Linked DNA regions of Homo sapiens: region 2 is linked to region 1. The links come from fine-mapping of genetic effects on gene expression. A gene starts in region 1. The other region holds a variant in brackets. All regions are shown on one strand. Distances are from middle to middle.

Region 1 (10,912 bases):
GTGCAGTGGTGTAATCTTGGCTCACTGCAACCTCTGCCTCCCAGGTTCAAGCGATTTTCCTGCCTCAGCATCCCAAGTAGCTGGGATTACAGGTGTGTGCCACCTGTAGTTTTTTTGTATTTTTCGTAGAGACTGGGTTTCGCCATGTTGGCCAGGCTGGTCTCGAACTCCCAACCTCAAGTCATATTCCTGCCTGGGCCTCCCAAAGTGCTGGGGTTACAGGCATGAGCCACCACGCCCAGTGTCGATAATTATAATTTATGTACTCTTTGCAATAAATTAGTATTCAGATTTACAATCTATGAATCTACCCTTTGCTTAAAACCATTTAGTGGCTTTCCATTGGACTGGAGTAAAAATATAAGTCTTACTAGTGCCCTTCTGTAAGTCAGCATCCAGTTAGGAAAACAGAGAGGTTAAAATAGGAAATTCATTAAACGGGTGACAGAGGACTGAGAAGGCAGAAAGGGAACACCGAGGCAATGTAAATAACAACTAGAGGAAGCAGCTACCACCTCCAAAGCTGGAGATAAAAATAAAAACAAGTTGGGGTTAGCACAGCTAGCAAAATCGGAGGAAGAGCCCCGGAGAGCTCGTTCTCACCCCTCTAAGAAAGAGGCACATAGCCAGGCGCTGTGATTCATGCCTGTAATCCCAGCACTTTCAGAGGCAGAGGTGGGCGGATCACTTGAGGTCAGGAGTTCGAGACCAGCCTGGCCAACATGGCAAAACCCTGTCTCTACTAAAAATACAAAAAATTAGCCTGATGTGGTGGTGCATGCCGGCAATTCCAGCTATGTGGGAGGCTGAGGCAGGAGAATCGTTTGAACCCAGAAGGCAGAGGTTGCAGTGAGCTGAGATTGTGCCACTGGGGTGACAGAGCGAGACTCTGTCTCAAAAAAAAAGACAGAAAGAAAAAAAGAAAGAGGCACAACCAGATTGGTGCTGGGCCTCCCAGAGCCCTGTGTAGTTGGGACTCAAAACTCTGAGGAGGGGTCTGCTGTTGGTGCCTCCGCGGGAGCACAAGGAGGCTGTCTCTGGGAGTGTACAAAGAACCTGGAGACTGAACCAAATACTACTGCCAGAGGCAGTGTTATTACTGAGGGGAACATGCTAGGAATAGTAAGCAAACAGGCAAGAACAAGTCCCCTCTCTTCCTCCTGCCTCCCAGACTGCTTCTATCTGCTCTCATTGGAAGAACCTAACATTAACTGAGAACGGGGAATTATGGTTTGCTGCTCTGTATCACAGAACAGGGTAGAAATGTGGATATTACCCAGGCTGATCTCAAACTTATGAGATCAAGCGATACACCTGCCACGGACTCCCAAAGTGCTGGGATTACAAGCATAAGCCACCAGGCCTGGCCTGCCTTTTTTCCTTATAGCATTAATCACTATTTATAATGATCTTTTGGGCTGGGAGCAGTGGCTCATGCCTGTAGTCCTAGCAATTTGGAAGGCCAAGGTGGGCAGATCACTTGAGGTCAGGAGTTTGAGACCAGCCTGGCCAACATGGCAAAACCCCACCTCTACTAAAAATACAAAAATTAGCTGGGTGTGGTGGCGGGTGCCTGTAATCCCAGCTATCTGGGAGGCTGAGGCAGGAGAATCGCTTGAACCCGGGAGGCGGAGGTTGTGGTGAGCCAAGATCCTGCCACTTCACTCCAGCTTGGGCGATAGAGCAAGACTCTGTCTCAAAAAATAAATAGGCCGGGTGCGGTGGCTCACCCCTGTAATCCCAGCACTTTGGGAGGCCGAGGTGGACTGATCATCACCTGAGGTCAGGAGTTTGAGACCAGCCTGACCAACATGGAGAAACCCTTGTCTCTACTAAAAATACAAAATTAGCTGGGTATCGTGGCGCATGCCTGTAATCCCAGCTACTCGGGAGGTTGAGGCAGGAGAATCGCTTGAACCTGGGAGGTGGAGGTTGCGGTGAGCCGAGATTGTGCCATTGCACTCCAGCCTGGGCAACAAGAGTGAAACTCTGTCTCAAAAAATAAATAAATAAAATAAATAAATTAATTAAATTAAATAATCTTTTGGATGGGCGTGTGGCTCACGCCTGTAGTCCCAACACTTCGGGAGGCCAAGGCAGGTAGATCATTTGAGGTCAGGAATTCAAGACCAGCCTGGCCAACGTGGTGAAACCCCTTCTCTACCAAAAATACAAAAATATGCCCGGGCGCGGTGGCTCACGCCTGTAAGGCAAGCGCTTTGGGAGGCTGAGGCGGGTGGATCACTTGAGGCCAGGAGTTCAAGACTAGCCTGGGGAGCATGGTGGAACCCCGTCTCTACTAAAAATACAAAAAAGAAATAGCTGGGTGTTTTGGCGCATGCCTATAATCCCAGCTACTCGGGAGGCTGAGGCAGGAGAATTGCTTGAACCTAGGAGGCAGAGGTTGCAGTGAGCCGAGATCACGCCATTGCACTCCAGCCTGGGTGACAGAGCGAGACTCCGTCTCAAAAAAAAAAAAATAGGTGGGCATGATGGCACACTCTTGTAATCCCAACTACTTGGGAGGCTGAGGCAGGAGAATTGCTTGAGCCCAGGAGGTGGAGGTTGCAGTGAGTCGAGAACGTGCCCCTGCACTCTAGCCTGGATGACAGAATGCGACCCTGTCTTAAAAAATAAATAAAATAAAAATAATCTTTTAGGCTAGGGGTGGTGGGCTCATGCCTGTAATCCTAGCACTTTGGAAGGCTGAGGCAGCTGGATCACATGATGCCAGGAGTTTGAGACCAGACTGGCCAACATGGAGAAACACTATCTCTATTAAAAATACAAAAATTGGGCTGAGCGCAGTGGGTCACGCCTGTAATCCCAGCACTTTGGGAGGCTGAGGCCGTCATATCAATTGAGGTTAGGAGTTCGAATCCAGCCTGGCCAACATGGTGAAACCCCATCTCTACTAAAAATACAAAAATTAGCCAGCCATGGTAGTGGGCGCCTATAATTCCAGCTACTCAGAATGCTGAGGCAGGAGAATTGCTTGAGCCCAGGAGGCAGATGTTGCAGTGAGCCGAGATCAAACCACTGCACTCCAGCCTAGGGAGACAGAGAGAGACTCCGTCTCAAGAAAAATAAAAATAAATAAACAAAATGATCTTTTTTTTCTTTTTTCTCTTTTTTTTTTTTTGAGATGGAGTCTCTCTTTGTCGCCTAGGCTGGAGTGCAGTGGCGTGATCTCGGCTCACTGCAAGCTCTGCCTCAGCCTCCCGAGTAGCTGGGACTCCAGGTGCCTGCCACCACGCCCGGCTAATTTTTTTTTTTTTGTATTTTTAGTAGAGATGGGGTTTCACCGTGTTAGCCAGGATGGTCTCGATCTTCTGACCTGGTGATCCGCCCACCTCAGCCTCCCAAAGTGCTGGGATTACAGGTGTGAGTCACCACACCCAGCCTTAAAATTATCTTTTAAATAATGCCTTGTTTCTTCCCTAAAAGAATGCAGGGAAGGAGCTGTGTCTACTTTCCCTTCGGATCCTTGGGGGATCCAAAACAGCGGCAGGCATAGAGCTCAATAAATGTTGAAATAATCAATTTTGGAGAAAGCAAACACCTCTCTCTCTATATATATTTTTTGTTTGTTTGTTTGTTTGTTTTGAGACAGAGTCTCGCTCTGGTGCCCAGGCTGGATTGCAGTGGGACGATCTTGGCTCACTGCAACCTCTGCCTCCCGGGTTCAAGCACTTCTCCGCCTCAGCCTCCTGAGTAGTGAGATTACAGGCACGCACCACCACGCCTGGCTAATTTTTGTATTTTTAGTAGAAACGGGGTTTTCACCATGTTGGTCAGGCTGGTCTTGAATTCCTGACCTCGTGATCCACCTGCCTCGGCCTCCCAGAGTGCTGGGATTACAGGTGAGAGCCACTGCACACTGCCACACTTCCACATATTTATGGAAGCTGTAAGGCATGTTGGAGATTACGGCACCAGCTCCTTCATTTGACAGGTAGGGAAATGGAAGGCCAGAGAGCTGAACTGATGTGCCAAGTGACACAGTGACTTTGTGACAAAAGTGTCCTTTTCTACCTTTCCCAGTGCTTTCACATATATCATTTTATTTTCCTTTCCTATTTTCCTGGTGCTTTGGAAGAGTCTTTGGGCAATGGTTGGGTCTCCAAAACCTTTTCAATTACCAAAGAGACAGGATGGATTAGTGACCTCGTCCCACACCCCTGGGAGGGGCCCCAGGGAAGAGCAGTAGTAACTGGACGCCTTCCCTGAGTCCAAAGCAGACACTCCAGGACACCTGATTCTCTGGGAACATACTGACTGAGCCCCCTCTCTCAGAGGGGAACAGCGAATACTTGCTTCCCTCGGGATAAGGTAGCCATTTAGTGTTTGAACAGTGGAGAGACTGACCCAGGCCCTGCAATTACATTGCTGGGTGACCTTGGGCAGCGCGTAAGTGACCCGCTTCCTCTATTGCCCCATCTGTAAAATGGGTGGGTGTGAAGCATTAGGATCTTTGCGGTCCTGGAAGGACCTTCCCTACTGACCCAGTTAGTTGGTAGGAGTTGTGTCTGTGGGTTTTTTTTTTTTTCTTTTTTTGAGACGGAGTCTCGTTCTGTCGCCCAGGCTGGAGTGCAGCGGCGTGATCTCGGCTCACTGCAAGCTCTGTCTCCCGGGTTCACGCCATTGTCCTGCCTCGGCCTCCCAGGTAGCTGGGACTACAGGCGCCCGCCACCACGCCCGGCTCATTTTTTTTGTATTTTTAGTAGAGACGGGGTTTCACCGTGTTAGCCAGGATGGTCTCGATCTCCTGACCTCGTAATCCACCCGCCTCGGCCTCCCAAAGTGCTGAGATTACAGGCGTGAGCCACCGCGCCCGGCCGGGTTTTGAATACTGGAATATTCAATAAACCTTTTTTTTTTTTTTTTTTTTTGAGACAGTGTTTCGCTCTTGTTGCCCAGGCTGGAGTGCAATGGCGCGATCTCGGCTCACCGTAACCTCTGCCTCCCGAGTAGCTGGGATTACATGCTATTCTCCGGCCTCAGCCTCCCGAGTAGCTGGGATTACATGCATGCGATACCACGCCCGGCTAATTTTGTATTTTTAGTAGAGACTGGGTTTCTCTATATTGGTCAGGCTGGTCTCGAACCACGGACCTCAGGTGATCCGCCCGCCTCAGCCTCCCAAAGTGCTGGGATTACAGGCATGAGCCACCGCGCCCGGCCAAAACCTTTCAAACCTGAGAATGAATGGATCAAACTGCTGGAGAGGTCGGTGTGCTGGAGTTGCTAAACTGCTGGGAGACTCAGGTTTCCCAGCTCTTAAGGGAAGATCGAGGGGTCAAAGGTCGGGTTCCGGTCAAGCCCACAGAGAACCGGAAGTCCCAGATCCGGTCGGCTCGGAGCCCAGGGCTCCAGCCGGGCTACTCACGCTCCGGAGGCGGAGCTTCAGCAGCGGGAGGGGGAGGAATCTGGGGCCTCCCAATGGCAGCTCGGGTGTCTTCCATCGCAGCCATTCAACGTCTGGCGACGGTCAAATTTAAACACCCCTCCCACCTCCTCCGCCGGGACCTGTCGGGAAAGCGTTTGCAGTTATTGCGGCGGCTGGACACGCCCCGCCGCCGAAGAGGCGGGAGAAGGGCGGGGCCTTTCTCCGAGTTGGCCTATCACTACGGGCAGCCTGCGGAGAGGCGGGAGGCGGCGCCAATCGGGGCGAGCAGCTGGAGCCCGGCGGAGCAGTTGGCTGAGTTGTTGCAACTTTTTTCGAAAGCTGGGTTTCCCGGGAGATCCCAGGCGGTGACAGAGTGGAGCCATGGCTAGAGGTATTTGCCCAAGTGGCCGGCACCGGAGCGGCTGGGTCGGGGGTCGTGCTGGAGGGGTTGCCGGGGTGGAGGCAGCGGCTGCGGGGAGGCGTCCTCCTCGGGTGGCTCGGGGCAAGCTTGGGGACCCGCGTGGGGGGAGAGGGGGTGCTGCTGCGGAACCCGCCGGCCCCCCCTTGCGGCTCCAGATGCCCCCAGAAACCCTTCCCACTGCCGTGCTTCTGTTTCCCTTCTATGAAGTGAACACCTGCGGGCCTGCCTCTCCACGGCAGCAGATCCATATGTCAGAGCTCTTTGGAAACTAAAGCGCAGGGCACCTCCAGGGAATAGGTGTTATTGATAGAAGTGGGGCGGGGGCAGGAGTGAGGCTTCGCCCACTTTGGGGCCCTCTCTCTTTGGGAAAGGAGGTGATCCCGAGGCGAAGGCGCAGATCGATAACCTGCATATTGGGGTGCGCGTCAGGGTGGACACCGCAGCAGGCGCCTTTCCTCCCTCCCCACGTCCTGAGTCAGCTCTGCGCCGCTGGAGCGAAGGCCGGGCCCCGCTGGCCCACTTTGGGGTAAAACGGGTTCCTGGCATCTCGCGGGCGCGGTCGTTCGCCCCGCATCTGGTCAGGACTTCGCCCCCCGGTAGATGGCTTGGGTGGGCTTGTACAGCCCTGGGAGGCGATGCCCTGTCTGAAGTCCTCTGCATACTTAGTTGGCTGTCAGGACAGTGCCTCCCAGGTATGCGGCAAAGAGATCTCCAACCGCTTGGTCATTTCCAGCCACTGCGTCTCCTTCACGCCAAAGGGCCAAAAACTTGAGCGTGAAAGTTGAGTAGAATTAGTATTAAAAAAAAAAAAAAGTTTTGGTATTATATTTTTCTCAAAATTTCAAGGCTTCAAGTGTTAGTAGGAATTTGCTTTAGTGCAGTATGCTCCCTATAGCAATAATAATGAATAAAATAATGATTCATTCAGTAAATATCTATTGGGTCCCTTTGTTTTCAGGCCCTGAAGTCAGTTGCATCATCTATTCTCCTAGCATCCCTAGAGGTTCTTTTGGGATAAGACTTACCCAGAGCCTGATGAAAAAATGAGGCATAGTAAACTTCAGGTTAAAGAGCTTCATCACTCAACTCTTGGAGAAAATTAATACTAATATTTTTCCTTTGAAAAGTGTTAAGCATCTAAAAGTATATTTAACATTATCTGACTAATTTATCTGACAAATTTTAATAAAACTATGCTTCCTGGGTTCATTTTTCTCATCACAGCAAAATCATTTAAACTACTTGTTTTAAAAGTAGTGCATTAATTAATATATGAAGAAAACTAACCATCTATCATTGAAATACTTAAAATATGACTAAATAATAATTATGGCCAGGCATGGTGGCTCACACCTGTAATCCTAGCACTTTGGGAGGCCAAGGCGGGCAGATCACCTGAGGTCGGGAGTTCGAGACCAGTCTGACCAACATGGAGAAATCCCGTCTCTACTAAAAATACAAAATTAGCCGGGCATGGCAGCGCATGCCTGTAATCCCAGCTACTTGGGAGGCTGAGGCAGGGAGAATTGCCTGAACCTGGGAGGTGGAGCTTGCAGTGAGCCGAGATTACGTCACCGCACTCCAGCATGGGCAACAGAGCAAGACTCCATCTCAAAAAAACAAACAAGAACAATAACAAAATAATAATAATTACCACTGAGGGCCAGGCACTTTATTAACTCAATTGATCTTTACAAATTGTTATTCTCATTTTTTGGAAGAGGAAGCGTGAAGTCCAAACTTGCTGTCCAGACTCTAGCTTGGCTGGGTCTTTGCTTGTGCCACCCAACCTCCCTTACTTACCCAAAGCGAAGATAATGTTTGTCAGCTCCTCCCATGGCAGCTTACAAATCACCTATGTAATTATTAGTTATTGATTCTCACTGTCTCACTTGACCCCCAAATTAGTAGTTACCTGTTTCTTAGGCTTTACTGCCCTTGCAAGCTATTAAATTGGATATTTAGATTTAGATTTTTTTTTTTTTTTTTTTTTTTGAGACAGAGTCTCTCTCTGTCACCCAGGCTGGAGTACAGTGGAGTGATTTCAGCCCGCTTCACCCTCCCTCTCCTGTGTTCAAGTGATTCTTGTGCCTCAGCTTCCCAAGTAGCTGGGATTACAGGCACCTGTCACCACACCCAGCTAATTTTTGTATTTTTAGTAGAGACGGGGTTTCGCCATGTTGGCCAGGCTAGTCTTGAACTCCTGACCTCAGGTTATCTGCCCACCTCGGCCTCCCAGAGTGCTGGGATTACAGGCAAAAGCCACCACGCCTGGCCAATATTTAGAATTGTAAATACCAAATCATTTACAGCACTTCAAATGAACAGTCTTTTTCTTCTAGAAAATTGGGCTTTGAACTTGCAATTCACTTTGAGAGCCCTGCTGGGTCACAGAAACAAACTGGTCAGATGCCAGGCAACACCTCACTCATTTTGAAGTTTTATAATCATGCAAATATTTACAACCCCAATATATTAGTCTCAGGGGTCAGTCCACCTACCTTTCACTATTTCTACTGCCATTGTTGAATGGTCTCTTGGTTGGTTGCCCTCCTCATTTTGCCATCTTCAGTTCATTATCCCTTAGCACCTGGTGGGGGGGTCTCCAAAAATACAGACTTTTCTTTTTTTTTGGGAGACAGAGTCTCACTCTGTCACCCAGGATAGAGTGCAGTGGCACAATCTTGGCTCACTGCAAACTCCACCCCCCTGGGTTCAAGTGACTCTCCTGCCTCAGCCTCCCAAGTAGCTGGGATTACAGGCATGCGCAACCACGCCAAGCTAATTTTTGTATTTTTAGTAGAGACGGGGTTTCGCCATGTTGGCCAGGCTGGTCTCAAACTCCTGATTTCAGGTGATTTGCCCTCCTCTGCCTCCCAAGGTGCTGGGATTACAGGTGTGAGCCACTGCGCCCAGCTGGTGTATTTGTTATATACGTATAAACTTGCGGAGAAAGGACTGTTTTGAAACTTACATTGAATGATCTGTATTTACATCTTCTAGGTACTGGAGCTGCAGAATTGAGAGGAATAGGTGCTAGACTTGTAATGTGTCCCCTGCAATTGGGGGCTCAAATGCAGAGAAAGCTATGACCATGAGTGGGGCGTGGGGTGTGGCTCGGTATACTAGAATGTGAAATGGATAAGATGATCTATGTGGGTGCTTCCTGCTCCAAAACCATGATTCTCATGGCAGTTAAGCTGCAAAACTTCTCTGCCTTGCAGAAATAGAAGACGCTTTCAAATGGCTCAACCTGGTTATCAGAGTGTCACTTTCGAATCCTCTTTCACCCTCTGGGTAATCTTTTGGATATTCAACTGTAGTAGGCTCTGCAGAGGGCATAGGCAGAGTACCTAGCCCACTGGAGTTAGTGGTTGGGCTGGAGACCCTGCCTTGAAGGATGCTAAAGCATGAGCTGATTTGGGAGGGATTGTCTGAGCAGTGACCTGTCACCACCTAATCCTACTCAGTCTTATCCGTTCCAATGGGAGTCGAGGGAGGCTAGGTGGGAGGATGGCTACAAACAGCCATTTGCTTATCTGTGGATGTTGGAAGGTGCTCTGGTGGATTATGGAATTCAAGGTTCTTGGTTTTTACCCATGAGGACACTGAGGCCCAGACTGGGGAAGTGACTTGGCGATGGTCACAAAACACCTCTGGGCAGATGCAGGGAAATAAGTCCAGCCCCTGACTCCCAGGCCATGGGCCAGGCTGCAGGAGCTGGATGCCTTGAAGTGTCTTGTTTGCATCTATGACTTTGCACAAATACAGTGAATCTGGCTGTGGGCCCTCAAGCCTTAATGGCCACAGAGTAGTGGTGCAGGGCAGTGAGCTATGCTGAAACAGCCACCAGAGTGACGGGAACCTCGTCTGCCTATGGGGGCATTTTCTCACGGCGGGATAGGAGAACAAGGTGACATGTTAAACCCTTCTGCAAGACCATTTGCTTCTCCCAAACTCCATTTCCTCATCTGTAACCAGGAAGGGTAGTGGCTGGGAGGGCAAGGCCCTGGGGTCAGTTGGCTGGGGCTGAAAACCCATCTAGTTCTGAGAACTTGGCCAAGCTCCTCACTTTCTCCATCTGTTGAAAAGAGATAATAATGGTGTCTACCTTTGCAGGGCTGCTGTGAGGTTTCAGTGAGATAACGGCAAGAGACTCGCCCAGGAAACCGATCATTATAACCCCTGGCTCTGTCTCCCCAGGGCTTCCTACCGGTCAAGTACAGCCCTTCTGGGTTTGACACCTGGCCCCATCACTTCCTAGTTCTGTGGCCCGGGACAAACCCCTGCACATCCCTTGAGTCACAGTGTCACCATTGTAAGCTGGGATGCCGACAGGACCTGCCCCCGTGGGCGTGCGGGGAGGATTCAATGCCTGTGAAACTCTCGGTGGGCACAGCGCCGGGCACACCCGAGGGCCTGGCCTGGCGCGTTCACCGCTGCTGATTTCGTCTGGCACAGACCGGGTTCCCAAAATATCCGCAGAGCCAGCGGAAAAAGGAGCCGGGCGGGCTGGCGGGAGGGCGGGCGGGAGCCTGGGCTGTCATGACGGTGTTTCCCACCCCTTCCTCCGCGAGTGGCTGAGGCCGCGCGAGAGGGGGCGCGCCCGAGCCGGGATTCGCCGCGCCCGCCCGCCCGCCCTCCGGAGCGGCCTGGCGGCGCCGCCCCTACCAGCCCCCTCCCCGGGCCGGGCGCCGGACGGTGGGCGGCTGCGAGCGGGCGGGAGGGCTGCGGAGGACGCGCCGCCTGCGCCTCCTTCCCTTCGTGCCTCGCCCCGGGCGGCCCGGGGCTGCCGCGGTGCGCGGGTGCCGGGCCCTGCCTCGCCGGCCATGGGGGAAGGGGGCGCCGTGGGGCGCCGCCGGCCCTTCCCCGGGGCGCCGCGGCGGCGCTGGTGGCGGCGGCGAGGGCGCGGGGCGCGCCGCCATGGGCCTGGCCGGGCTGCAGGTGGGTGTGTCGGGCCCGGCCGCGCGGGGGGCGGGCGGCGCGCGGGGCCTGGCCGGGCCGGGCGGCGGGAGGGCGACGCGGGCTCCGGCCCGGCCCTCCCGGCTGCGCGGGCGGCTCACCAGAGCCGGGGCCTCGAAATATGGCTGCGGCGGGAGGCG
Region 2 (10,912 bases), 26 kb after region 1:
AGAAATGTGCTTTTCTCTTACTGTATTTCAACCACACTCAGTTTGGGCGAGAGGAGAAGTACTCTCTACAGTGGGGTTCAGATGGGCCTAGACTAGGGCTCCGGGTTCAGAAAGCTTCCACTTCCACCCACCACCTAGGGGGATTCCGGCTTAAGTCCTGGGCCCCTCCAGCAACCCCATTCAACTCCATGTAGAATAGAGTGAGGAGACACAGGAGAGAAATCGTGGAATGAGGTAGAGACCCAGAACACTGGGCCTGCTGTTTGCCTAGGAAGGCATAGCGCATAGCCCCTAGACAGAGAAACCAGGTGTGTGGATTTGAGCTGTGTCACTGTCTAGCTGTGTGGCCTCAGACACGTGGTTGTGCCTCTTTAAGCCTCAGTTTCCTCATCTACAAAATGGGGCAGTCTCCACCTAGCAGATCTCTCACGAGCTCTGATGTAACTGCTTTGCAGATGAGCACCAAGGAACCACGTTTGTGGAGTGAGGGAACGTTCTAGAGCTGGCCTGTAGTGACGGTTGCACAGCTGTATACACTTCATAAAACCCATCAGCCTGTACATGTAAAGTGAGTGAATTTTATGACATGGCTCAGTACAGCTGTTAAAGACTGGGGTAAGCCCCAGCTCCCCGGAGACCTGCTGTGCACAGTGGCATCCATTGCTATTATGAACCAACACCCTCTCTTATCACCTGACAGATTGACCTCATCGATGGCAAAGGCAGGGGTGTGATTGCCACCAAGCAGTTCTCCCGGGGTGACTTTGTGGTGGAATACCACGGGGACCTCATCGAGATCACCGACGCCAAGAAACGGGAGGCTCTGTACGCACAGGACCCTTCCACGGGCTGCTACATGTACTATTTTCAGTATCTGAGCAAAACCTACTGGTGAGTCCACTGTTGCTTAGAGTGGCTTTTCTGTCCTCTGGGCAGTGAGGAGAGGCCAAAGGGCCAGGAACTCCTGATTCTGTTTGGTGGCCAGTCTTTTGGTTTTGTTGTTGTTGACTTTTTTTTTTTTATTTTTTGAGATGGAGTCTTGCTCTGTTGCCCAGGCTGGAGTGCAGTGGTGTGATCTCGGCTCATTGCAACCTCCTCTCAGGCTCAAAGAATTCTCCTCCCTCAGCCTCCAGAGTAGCCCAGCTAATTTTTTTTTTCTGTATTTTTAGTAGAGGTGGAGTTTTGCCACATTGGCCAAGCTGGTCTTGAACTCCTGACCTCAGACGATCCACCCGCCTTGGCCTTCCAAAGTGCTAGGATTACAGGTGTGAGCCACTGCGCTCGGGCTGTTGTTGCCTTTTTTCAAAGCTGTGATGCAATTATCGCCTGCTTCCTTTTTTTTTTTTTTTTTTTTTTTTTTGAATCTCGATCTGTCGCCCAAGCTGGAGTGCAGTGGCACAATCTTGGCTCACTGCAACCTCCACCTCCCGGGTTCAAGGTATTCTGTCTCAGCCTCCCACGTAACTGGGATTACAGGTGTGCGTCACCACGCCCAGCTAATTCTTATATATTTTTTTAGTAGAGACAGGGTTTCATTATGTTGGCCAGGCTGGTCTGACCTCATATGGTCTGCCTGCCTTAGCCTCCCAAAGTTCTGGGATTACAGATGTGAGCCACTGCGCCTGGCCCCAGCTTCCCTTTTTTTTTTTCTTTTGAGACGGAGTCTCGTTCTGTCACCCAGGCTGGAGTGCAGTGGTGCAATCTTGGCTTACTGCAACCTCCACCTCCCAGGTTCAAGCGATTCTCCTGCCTCAGCCTCCTGAGTAGCTGGGACTACACACACATGCCACCATGCCTGGCTAATTTTTTGTATTTTTAGTAGAGATGGAGTTTCACTGTGTTAGCCAGGATGGTCTCAATCTCCTAACCTTGTGACCTGCCCACCTTGGCCTCCCAAAGTGCTGGGATTACAGGCATGAGCCACTGTGGCCCCAGCTTCCCATTTTTAATCTTTGGAATTGGAGCTGTCCTGGATGTTATCTCATCCAAGGGGAGAAGTGGGCTAGTCACATGAAAACCTGTTAAGCAGCTCACCTGGCTCTCCTTCAGGGCATTTGGCCAGAGCAGCTCTGGAAATCACTAATTGATCTTGCCTGGCTAGGACCAGTGGAGTTGAATTTTTTATTTTTTATTTTATTTTATTTTTTTGAGATGGAGTTTCACTCTTGTTGTCCAGGCAGGAGTGCAGTGGCACGATCTTGGCTCACTGCAACTTCCACTTCCGAAGTTTAAGCAATTCTCCTGCCTCAGCCTCCCAAGTAACTGGGATTACAGGCATGCGCCACCACGCCCAGCTAATTTTGTATTTTTAGCACAGACAGCGTTTCACCATGGTGGCCAGGCTGGTTTTGAAATCCTGACCTCAGGTAATCCACCCGCCTCAGCCTCCGAAAGTGCTGGGATTACAGGCGTGAGCCACCGCGCCTGGCGGGGTTGATTTTTTTAATCCATTTATTTTGTGAAACTCTACCATTTCCTCCTGTGCCTCCATAAAGAGCCCTTTGGGTCCTACCCCATCCCCCCACCCAGGGCCTGTGCAGGCTCTCAAAAATAGCTTTGTGGGCCAGGCGTGGTAGCTCATGCCTGTGATCCCAGCACTTTGGGTGGCCGAGGTGGATGGATCATGAAGGTCAGGAGCTCCAGACCAACATGGCAAAACCCCATCTCTACTAAAAATACAAAAAAATTAGCCTGGCATGGTGGCACACGCTTCTAATCCCAGTGACTCAGGAGGCTGAGGCAGAATTGCCTTACCCCGGGAGGCAGAGGTTGCAGTGAGCTGAGATCGTGCCACTGCACTCCAGCCTGGGCGACAGAGCGACGAGACTCCCTCTCAAAAAAAAAAAAAAAAAAAAAAAAGCTTTGCAAATTGAGCCAGACCTGGTGGCTCGTGCTTGTAATCTCAAAAACTCAGGAGGCCAAGGCCAGAGGATCACTTGAGCCCAGGGGTTGGAGACCAGCCTGAGCAATATAGGGAGATCTTGTCTCTACAGAAACAATTAAAAATTAGCCTGATGTGGTGGCATGTACCTGTGGTCAAAGCTACTCGGGAGGCTGAGGTAGGAGGATGACTTGAGCCCGGGAGGTGGAGGCTGCAGTGAGCCGTGATCGTGCCACTGCACTCCAGCCTGGGTTACGGAGCGAGACCCCCTCTAAAAAGGAAAAAGAAAATAGCTTTATGAATTGAATCTTTTCAAAACACATGGCTTTAAATCAGCATCCCACCAGAGCTGAGCACAAGTGTGACTCTCTTCAGGTTGAAAAGCCTCTTTATCCATTTAATCCTCTCTGGCCCTCCTTCCCCTCCAGCGTGGATGCAACTAGAGAGACAAATCGCCTAGGAAGACTGATCAATCACAGCAAATGTGGGAACTGCCAAACCAAACTGCACGACATCGACGGCGTACCTCACCTCATCCTCATCGCCTCCCGAGACATCGCGGCTGGGGAGGAGCTCCTGTATGACTATGGGGACCGCAGCAAGGCTTCCATTGAAGCCCACCCGTGGCTGAAGCATTAACCGGTGGGCCCCGTGCCCTCCCCGCCCCACTTTCCCTTCTTCAAAGGACAAAGTGCCCTCAAAGGGAATTGAATTTTTTTTTTACACACTTAATCTTAGCGGATTACTTCAGATGTTTTTAAAAAGTATATTAAGATGCCTTTTCACTGTAGTATTTAAATATCTGTTACAGGTTTCCAAGGTGGACTTGAACAGATGGCCTTATATTACCAAAACTTTTATATTCTAGTTGTTTTTGTACTTTTTTTGCATACAAGCCGAACGTTTGTGCTTCCCGTGCATGCAGTCAAAGACTCAGCACAGGTTTTAGAGGAAATAGTCAAACATGAACTAGGAAGCCAGGTGAGTCTCCTTTCTCCAGTGGAAGAGCCGGGACCTTCCCCCTGCACCCCCGACATCCAGGGACGGGGTGTGAGGAAGACGCTGCCTCCCAATGGCCTGGACGGGATGTTTCCAAGCTCTTGTTCCCCTAACGTCTCAACAGGCGCTCACTGAAGTGTATGAATATTTTTTAAAAAGGTTTTTGCAGTAAGCTAGTCTTCCCCTCTGCTTTCTCGAAAGCTTACTGAGCCCCGGGCCCCAAGCACGGGCCGGGCATAGATTTCCTCTTCCACAAGCTGCCGCTTTTCTGGGCACCTTGAAGCATCAGGGCGTGAAATCAAACTAGATGTGGGCAGGGAGAGGGTTGCTTACCTGCCCTGCTGGGGCAGGGTTTCCTGAAACTGGGTTAATTCTTTATAGAAATGTGAACACTGAATTTATTTTAAAAAATAATAATAAAAATTTAAAAAAATTAAAAATAAAAAAAACCACAGAAAACAACTTTACATGTATATAGGTCTTGAAGTGAGTGAAGTGGCTGCTTTTTTTTTTTTTTTTTTTTGCTTTTTTTTGCTTTTTGTAGAAGAGATTGAGAATGGTACTCTAATCAAAAATAAAGTTTTGTAGTGGGACCAGAAATTACTTACCTG[A/G]CATCCACCCCCATTCCCCCTCATCCTGCTGGGGTTGAAAGTTCCAGACCTGCTGTCGAGGCCTTGTGTTTGTCAGACACCCAGTGTCCTCCTGCAAGGACGCAACTGTGAGCTGAGGTGTGAGCCTAGGAGCCCAGGACCCCTGACCCCGGCCGCTGCTGCCAGCCTCAGAAAGGCACCCAGGTGTGCAGGGGAGCACACAGGGCCCGGCAGCCCCCAGGAATCAAGGATAGGGCTAAGGTTTTCACCTTAACTGTGAAGGCAGGAGGAATAGGTGACTGCTTCCTCCCGCCCTTCACAGAACTGATTCTCACACACTGTCCCTTCAGTCCAGGGGGCCGGGGCTCAGGAGCCATGACCTGGTGTCTCCTGCCCACCCTGGTCCCAGGTAAATGTGAATGGAGACAGGTATGAGAGGCTGTCCTCGTCTTTGATTCCCCCCCAACCCCACCTCGGGCCTCACGACGGTGCTACCTAAGAAAGTCTTCCCTCCCACCCCCCGCTAGCCTGGTCAGTGGTCAGCAAATTGGAAGAGGATCCGATGGGAGTGTAAATGTGAGACACAATGTCTTGATTATACCTGTTTGTGGTTTAGCTTTGTATTTAAACAAGGAAATAAACTTGAAAATTATTTGTCATCATAAAAATGAAACAAATTAAAATATTTATTGCCAGGCAAGGCCACGTGTGTGTCTTTCTGTTTTTACAATTTGACTGTGTCACACCAGCATGTCTAAGCTTTGGTAAGCATCCTCCTGGGGAACCAGAAAAGCTTACTGACGTGATTTTGAGCGTGTTTCCCAGAACTCTGAGCTCTTTCGTTTCCTCATCTGTATACTGGGGACCATAGGGTATGTGAAGATTAAAAGTTAATGCTTTTTTTTTTTTTTTTGAGACAGTCTCTGTTACCTAGGCTGGAGTTCAGTGGGGCAGTCTCAGCTCACTGCAACCTCCAACCTCCACCTCCTTGGTTCAAGCAATTCTCGTACCTTGGCTACCTGAATAGCTGGGATTACAGGCATGCACCACCACACCTGGCCTTTTTTTTTTTTTTTTTTTTTTTTTTTTTTGAGATGGAATTTCACTCTGTTGCCCAGGTGGGAGTGCAGTGGCATGATCTGGGCTCACTGCAACCTCTACCTCCCAGGTTCAAGCAATTCTGCCTCAGCCTCCCAAGTAGCTGGGATTACAGGCGCCAGCCACCACACCCAGCTAATTTTTTTGTATTTTTAGTAGAGACGGTCTTTCACCATGTTGACCAGGCTGGTTTCGAACTCCTGACCTCAAGTGATCTGCCCGCCTTGGCCTCCCAAACTGCTAGGATTACAGGCGTGAGCCACTGCACCCGGCCACAGTAGAGACAGGGTTTCACCGTGTTGGCCAGGCTGGTCTCAAACTCCTGACCTTAATGATCCACCCGCCTCGGCCTCCCAAAATGCTGGGATTATAGGCATGAGCCACCACGCCCAGCTTAAAAGTTAATGCATTTTGAGCCTTAGAACAATGGCACATAGTAAGCATCATAAACTTTAGCTGATGTAATTGTCATTGCGACTTATAATTTACTAGACTTGATGATTCTCAGGAGGCTCTGAATCATCACTGCACCTGTCTTGGGCTGGAAGTCCCTATTACCAGCCCAGATCCCTGTCCCCTCCATGCTTGGGCACTGGTGGTAGATTGGAACAGTGAGTAGAGCCCTTGGCTTAGATGCAAAAGATCCAGTTCCAGCATCAGTTTTAAGTGTTTGTCAGCCGTGTGACATTGGTCAAGTCACTTCCCCTCTCTGAAACTTGTCTCAAATAGGGATAATCTCTGCCCACTTGACTTGCCTCCTCCCCCAAAGATTCAGGCATCAGTATTATAGCTTCACCTTGGAGGGGACATGTGGCTGCTGGAACAGAACCTCTGCTTCCAATCCACTGCTGTGTAACTTGGGCAGGTACGTAGTCTCCTTGTGCGTCAGTTTCCCTCCCTGTAACATGGAGACAGTAATAATACTTGTACAGGGTGATTGTGAGGATTTAATGAGTTAATACAAAAAAAAAAAAAACAACACTTGGAACAGTGCCTTGCACATAGCCTTCAGTAATCAGTATTAGCTATTATTAGAATTAAAAATTTGGCTAGCTTCTATTCAGTGTTTACAAGTACTCAGGACTAATAGCTAATAAGTGCCTCCAAGTTCTGATATGTAGTTGCTATATTTATTTGTTCATTTTACTTTTTGTAGAGATAGGGTCTCACTATGTTGCCCAAGCTAGTCTCAAACCCCTGGCCTCAAGCGATCCTCATGCCTCACCCTCCCACAGGGCTGTGATTACAGGCATGCGTGAGCCACTGTGCCTGACTTATTTTTATTTATTTATTTATTTTTTTTTTGAGATGGAGTCTTGGTCTGTCTGTCGCCCAGGCTGGAGTGCAGTGGTGCAATCTCAGCTCACTGAAACCTCCACCTCCCGGGTTCAAGCGATTCTCCTGCCTCAACCTCCTGAGTAGCTAGGATTACAGGCGTGCATCACCACACCCAGCTAATTTTTGTATTTTTAGTAGAGACGAGGTTTCACCATGTTGGCCAGGCTGGTCTCCTGACCTCGTGATCTGCCCATCTCCCAAAGTGCTAGGATTACAGATGTGAGCCACCGCGCCCAGCCCTATTTGTTCATTGTAAAAGATGACTGCTGGCCAGGCACGGTAATCCCTGTAATCCCACCACTTTGGGAGGGCGAGGCAGGCGGATTATGAGGTCAGGAGCTGAGATCCTGCCACTGCACTCCGGCCTGGGCGACAGAGCGAGACTCTGTCTCAAATAAATAAAATAAAAGATGATTGCTACAGCAACCACCTCCTGTGCCTTCTGAGACTTGGCTTGAAAACCTTTTTTTTTTTTTTTTTTTTTTTGAGACGGAGTCTCATTCTGTCGCCCAGGCTGGAGTGCAGTGGCATGAACTCAGCTCACTGCAACCTCTGCCATCCAGGTTCAAGCAATTCCCCTGCCTTGGCCTCCTGAATAGCTAATTTTTGTATTTTTAGTAGAGACAGGGTTTCACCTTCTTGGCCAGGCTGGTCTCGAACTCCTGACCTTGTGATCCACCCACCTCGGCCTCCCAAAGTGCTAGGATTACAAGCATGAGCCACTGCACCCGGCGAAAACCTACTTCTGAGCCTGTTCCTCCCCGGTCTAGGTTTGTAGTTGGAATCCTGCAGTGTGAGAACCGCCAGAGCTCAGCTGACGTCACAGCTCTGTTACCTGTTGTCAAGCTAGGCCCATCTCTAGGAGAATCACCCCAAGGACTTATTTTCCAAAATGCCCACCTGCCAGCATCAGATTTTACCAAGAGTTGCAGTCCAAGCATTTCTCACCGTAACTTTTTTTAGTCTCCTGGGGTACCACAGCCACCCAGGCCATCTTAACCTTTCTTTCTGAGTGGGTTCTCTTACCCTATCTATCCCCACAGGGAGGCAGGGGAGCATTTATATATTTGGAGACAGGGTCTCACTCTGTCACCCAGGCTGGAGTGTAGTGGTGTGATCATAGCTCACTGCAGCCTCAAACTCCCGGGCTCAATTAATCTTCCCGCCTCAGCCTCCCCAGGAGCTGGGACTACAGGTGCTCACCACCATGCCTGGCTAATTTTTTGTTTTTTGTAAAGATAGGTTCTTACTATGTTGCCTAGGCTGGTCTCGAACTCCTGGGCTCAAGCAATCCTCTCACCTTGGCCTCCAAAAGTGCTGGAATTACAGGCTTGAACCACTATGCCTGGCCAGGGTTGCAGTGTTACACAGGGTTCTAGGGATTAGGAGCCCTGATCTAATGATGCTGTTGAGACAGTGTTCTGGACTAGACTCTTAAACACTACCAGCTCTTCCTGGAAGGCAGAGTGGTTGAAGCCTGTGTGTGGACTTTGTATCTGGGCTCAAGTCCTGCTTCTACCACTTTCTAGCTGAGGACCTTAGACAAGACTTTTCACCCATTATGCCTTAACCTCCTTGGGAGGACCCCAAGGACAATAGTGATACCCATCCCACAAAAGTATGTGAGACAGCATCGGAAAGGTACTTAGAATGATGCAGGCGAGGCATACAGTAAATTATTACTATTATTAGGACTTGCCAGTGACTCTGGACCCATAAAGCTTGGCAGCTCCGCGCCCGGGCCTTGGAATCAGGCCTGCATTTGCCTCCTGGGCAAGCTGCTTCCTAGCTCCACAGCCAGAGTTTCAGTTTCTAAACCTATAAACTGGCCGGGCACGGTGACTCACGCCTGTAATCCCAGCACTTTGGGAGGCCGAGGAGGGCGGATCATGAGGTCAGGAGTTCGAGACCAGCCTGGCCAATATGGTGAAACCCCGTCTCTACAAAAATACAAAAATTAACCCAGTGTGGTGGCATATACCTATAGTCCCAGCTAGTCGGGAGGCTGAGGCAGGAGCATCGCTTGAATCTGGGAGGCAGAGATTGCAGTGAACCCAGATGGTGCCACTGCACTCCAGCCTGGGCGATAGAGCAAGACTCCGTCCCCACCACCCCCCAAAAAAAAGCCGGGTGCGGTGGCTCACGCCTGTAATCCCAGTGTGTCCGGAATTGGTGGGTTCTTGGTCTCACTGACTTCAAGAATGAAGCCGCGGACCCTCGCGGTGAGTGTTACAGTTCTTAAAGGTGGCGTGTCCAGAGTTTGTTCCTTCTGATGTTCAGATGTGTTCGGAGTTTCTTCCTTCTGGTGGGTTCGTGATCTCGCTGGCTCAGGAGTGAAGCTGCAGACCTTCGTGGTGAGTGTTACAGCTCTTAAGGCGGCGCGTCTGGAGTTGCTCGTTCCTCCTGGTGGGCTCCTGGTCTCCCTAGCTTCAGGAGTGAAGCTGCAGACCTTCGGGGTGAGTATTACAGCTCATAAAAGCAGTGTGGACCCAAAGAGTAAGCAGTAGTAAGATTTATTGCAAAGAACAAAAGAACAAAGCTTCCACAATGCGGAAAGGAACCCGAGCGGGTTGCCACTGCTGCCTGGGGCAGCCTGCTTTTATTCTCTTATCTGGCCCCACCCACATCCTGCTGATTGGTAGAGCCAAGTGGTCTGTTTTGACAGGGCGCTGATTGGTGCGTTTACAATCCCTGATCTAGACACAAAGGTTCTCCACGTCCCCACCAGATTAGCTAGATACAGAGTGTGGACACAAAGGTTCTCCAAGGCCCCACCAGAGTAGCTAGATACAGAATGTCGATTGGTGCATTCACAAACCCTGAGCTAGACACAGGGTGCTGATTGGTGTGTTCACAAACCTTGAGCTAGATACAGAGTGCCGATTGGTGTATTTACAATCCCTGAGCTAGACACAAAGGTTCTCCACGTCCCCAGCAGACTCAGGAGCCCAGCTGGCTTCACCCAGTGGATCCCGCACCGGGGCTGCAGATGGAGCTGCCTGCCAGTCCCGTGCCCTGTGCCTGCACTCCTCAACCCTTGGGTCGTTGATGGGACTGGACACCATGGAGCAGGGGGTGGGGCTCGTGGAGGAGGCTTGGGCCGCACAGGAGCCCACGGAGGGGGTGGGAGGCTCAGGCATGGCGGGCTGCAGGTCCCGAGCCCTGCCCCACGGGAAGGCAGCTAAGGCCCGGCGAGAAATCGAGCGCAGCGCCGGTGGGCTGGCACTGCTGGGGGACCCAGCACACCCTCAGCAGCCGCTGGCCCGGGTGCTAAGCCCCTCATTGCCCGGAGCCGGCAGGGCCCGCCAGCTGCTCCGAGTGCGGGGCCCACCAAGCCCACGCCCACCCGGAACTCCAGCTGGCCCGCAAGCGCCCCGCGCAGCCCCGGTTCCCGCTCGCGCCTCTCCCTCCACACCTCCCTGCAAGCTGAGGGAGCGGGCTCCGGCCTTGGCCAGCCCAGAAAGGGGCTCCCACAGTGCAGCGGTGGGCTGAAGGGCTCCTCAAGTGCCGCCAAAGTGGGAGCCCAGGCAGAGGAGGCGCCGAGAGCGAGCGAGGGCTGTGAGGACTGCCAGCACGCTGTCACCTCTCACCAGCACTTTGGGAGGCTGAGGCGGGTGGATCACGAGGTCAGGAGATCGAGACCATCCTGGCTAACACGGCGAAACCCTGTCTCTACTAAAAATACAAAAAAATTAGACGAGTGTGGTGGCAAGTGCCTGTAGTCCCAGCTACTCAGGAGGCTGAGGCAAGAGAATGGCGTGAACGTAGGCAGCAGAGCTTGTAGTGAGCCGAGATCGTGCCACTGCACTCCAGACTGTGCGACAGAGCGAGAGACTCCGTCTCAAAAAAAAAAAAAAAAAAAATCTATAAACTGGTGCACCGGTACCGGTCCCCATCTCCCCAGGTTATGAGGAACAAATGAGATAATCCACAGAGCAGGCGAAACACATTGAGTAAGCCACTGTTATTTACTAAGAAGACAGGCTCACGGAATGGTTGCGGCAGC

Evidence for each region. PIP is the estimated chance that this variant, and not a neighbour inherited with it, causes the effect.
Region 2: its variant is fine-mapped to the expression of KMT5A in whole blood (INTERVAL, PIP 0.98).

Annotation. Positions count from the first base shown.
Region 1 is chr12:123,378,429-123,389,340 of GRCh38, forward strand. KMT5A (lysine methyltransferase 5A) reads left to right here and starts at 5,704. Exons shown (of 8, transcript NM_020382.7): 1 at 5,704-5,780. The coding sequence starts at 5,771. RefSeq lists silencers at 4,675-4,897, 5,825-5,994, 10,346-10,705 and enhancers at 4,862-5,592, 5,115-5,334, 6,175-6,334.
Region 2 is chr12:123,404,184-123,415,095 of GRCh38, forward strand. It overlaps KMT5A (lysine methyltransferase 5A), which reads left to right. Exons shown (of 8, transcript NM_020382.7): 7 at 701-891; 8 at 3,310-5,170. The coding sequence ends at 3,520. It overlaps RILPL2 (Rab interacting lysosomal protein like 2), which reads right to left. Exons shown (of 4, transcript NM_145058.3): 4 at 10,856-10,912. Among named protein-coding and RNA genes, the nearest start is that of KMT5A, 26 kb to the left of the region's middle. The variant A/G (reference allele first, on the strand shown) is at 4,492.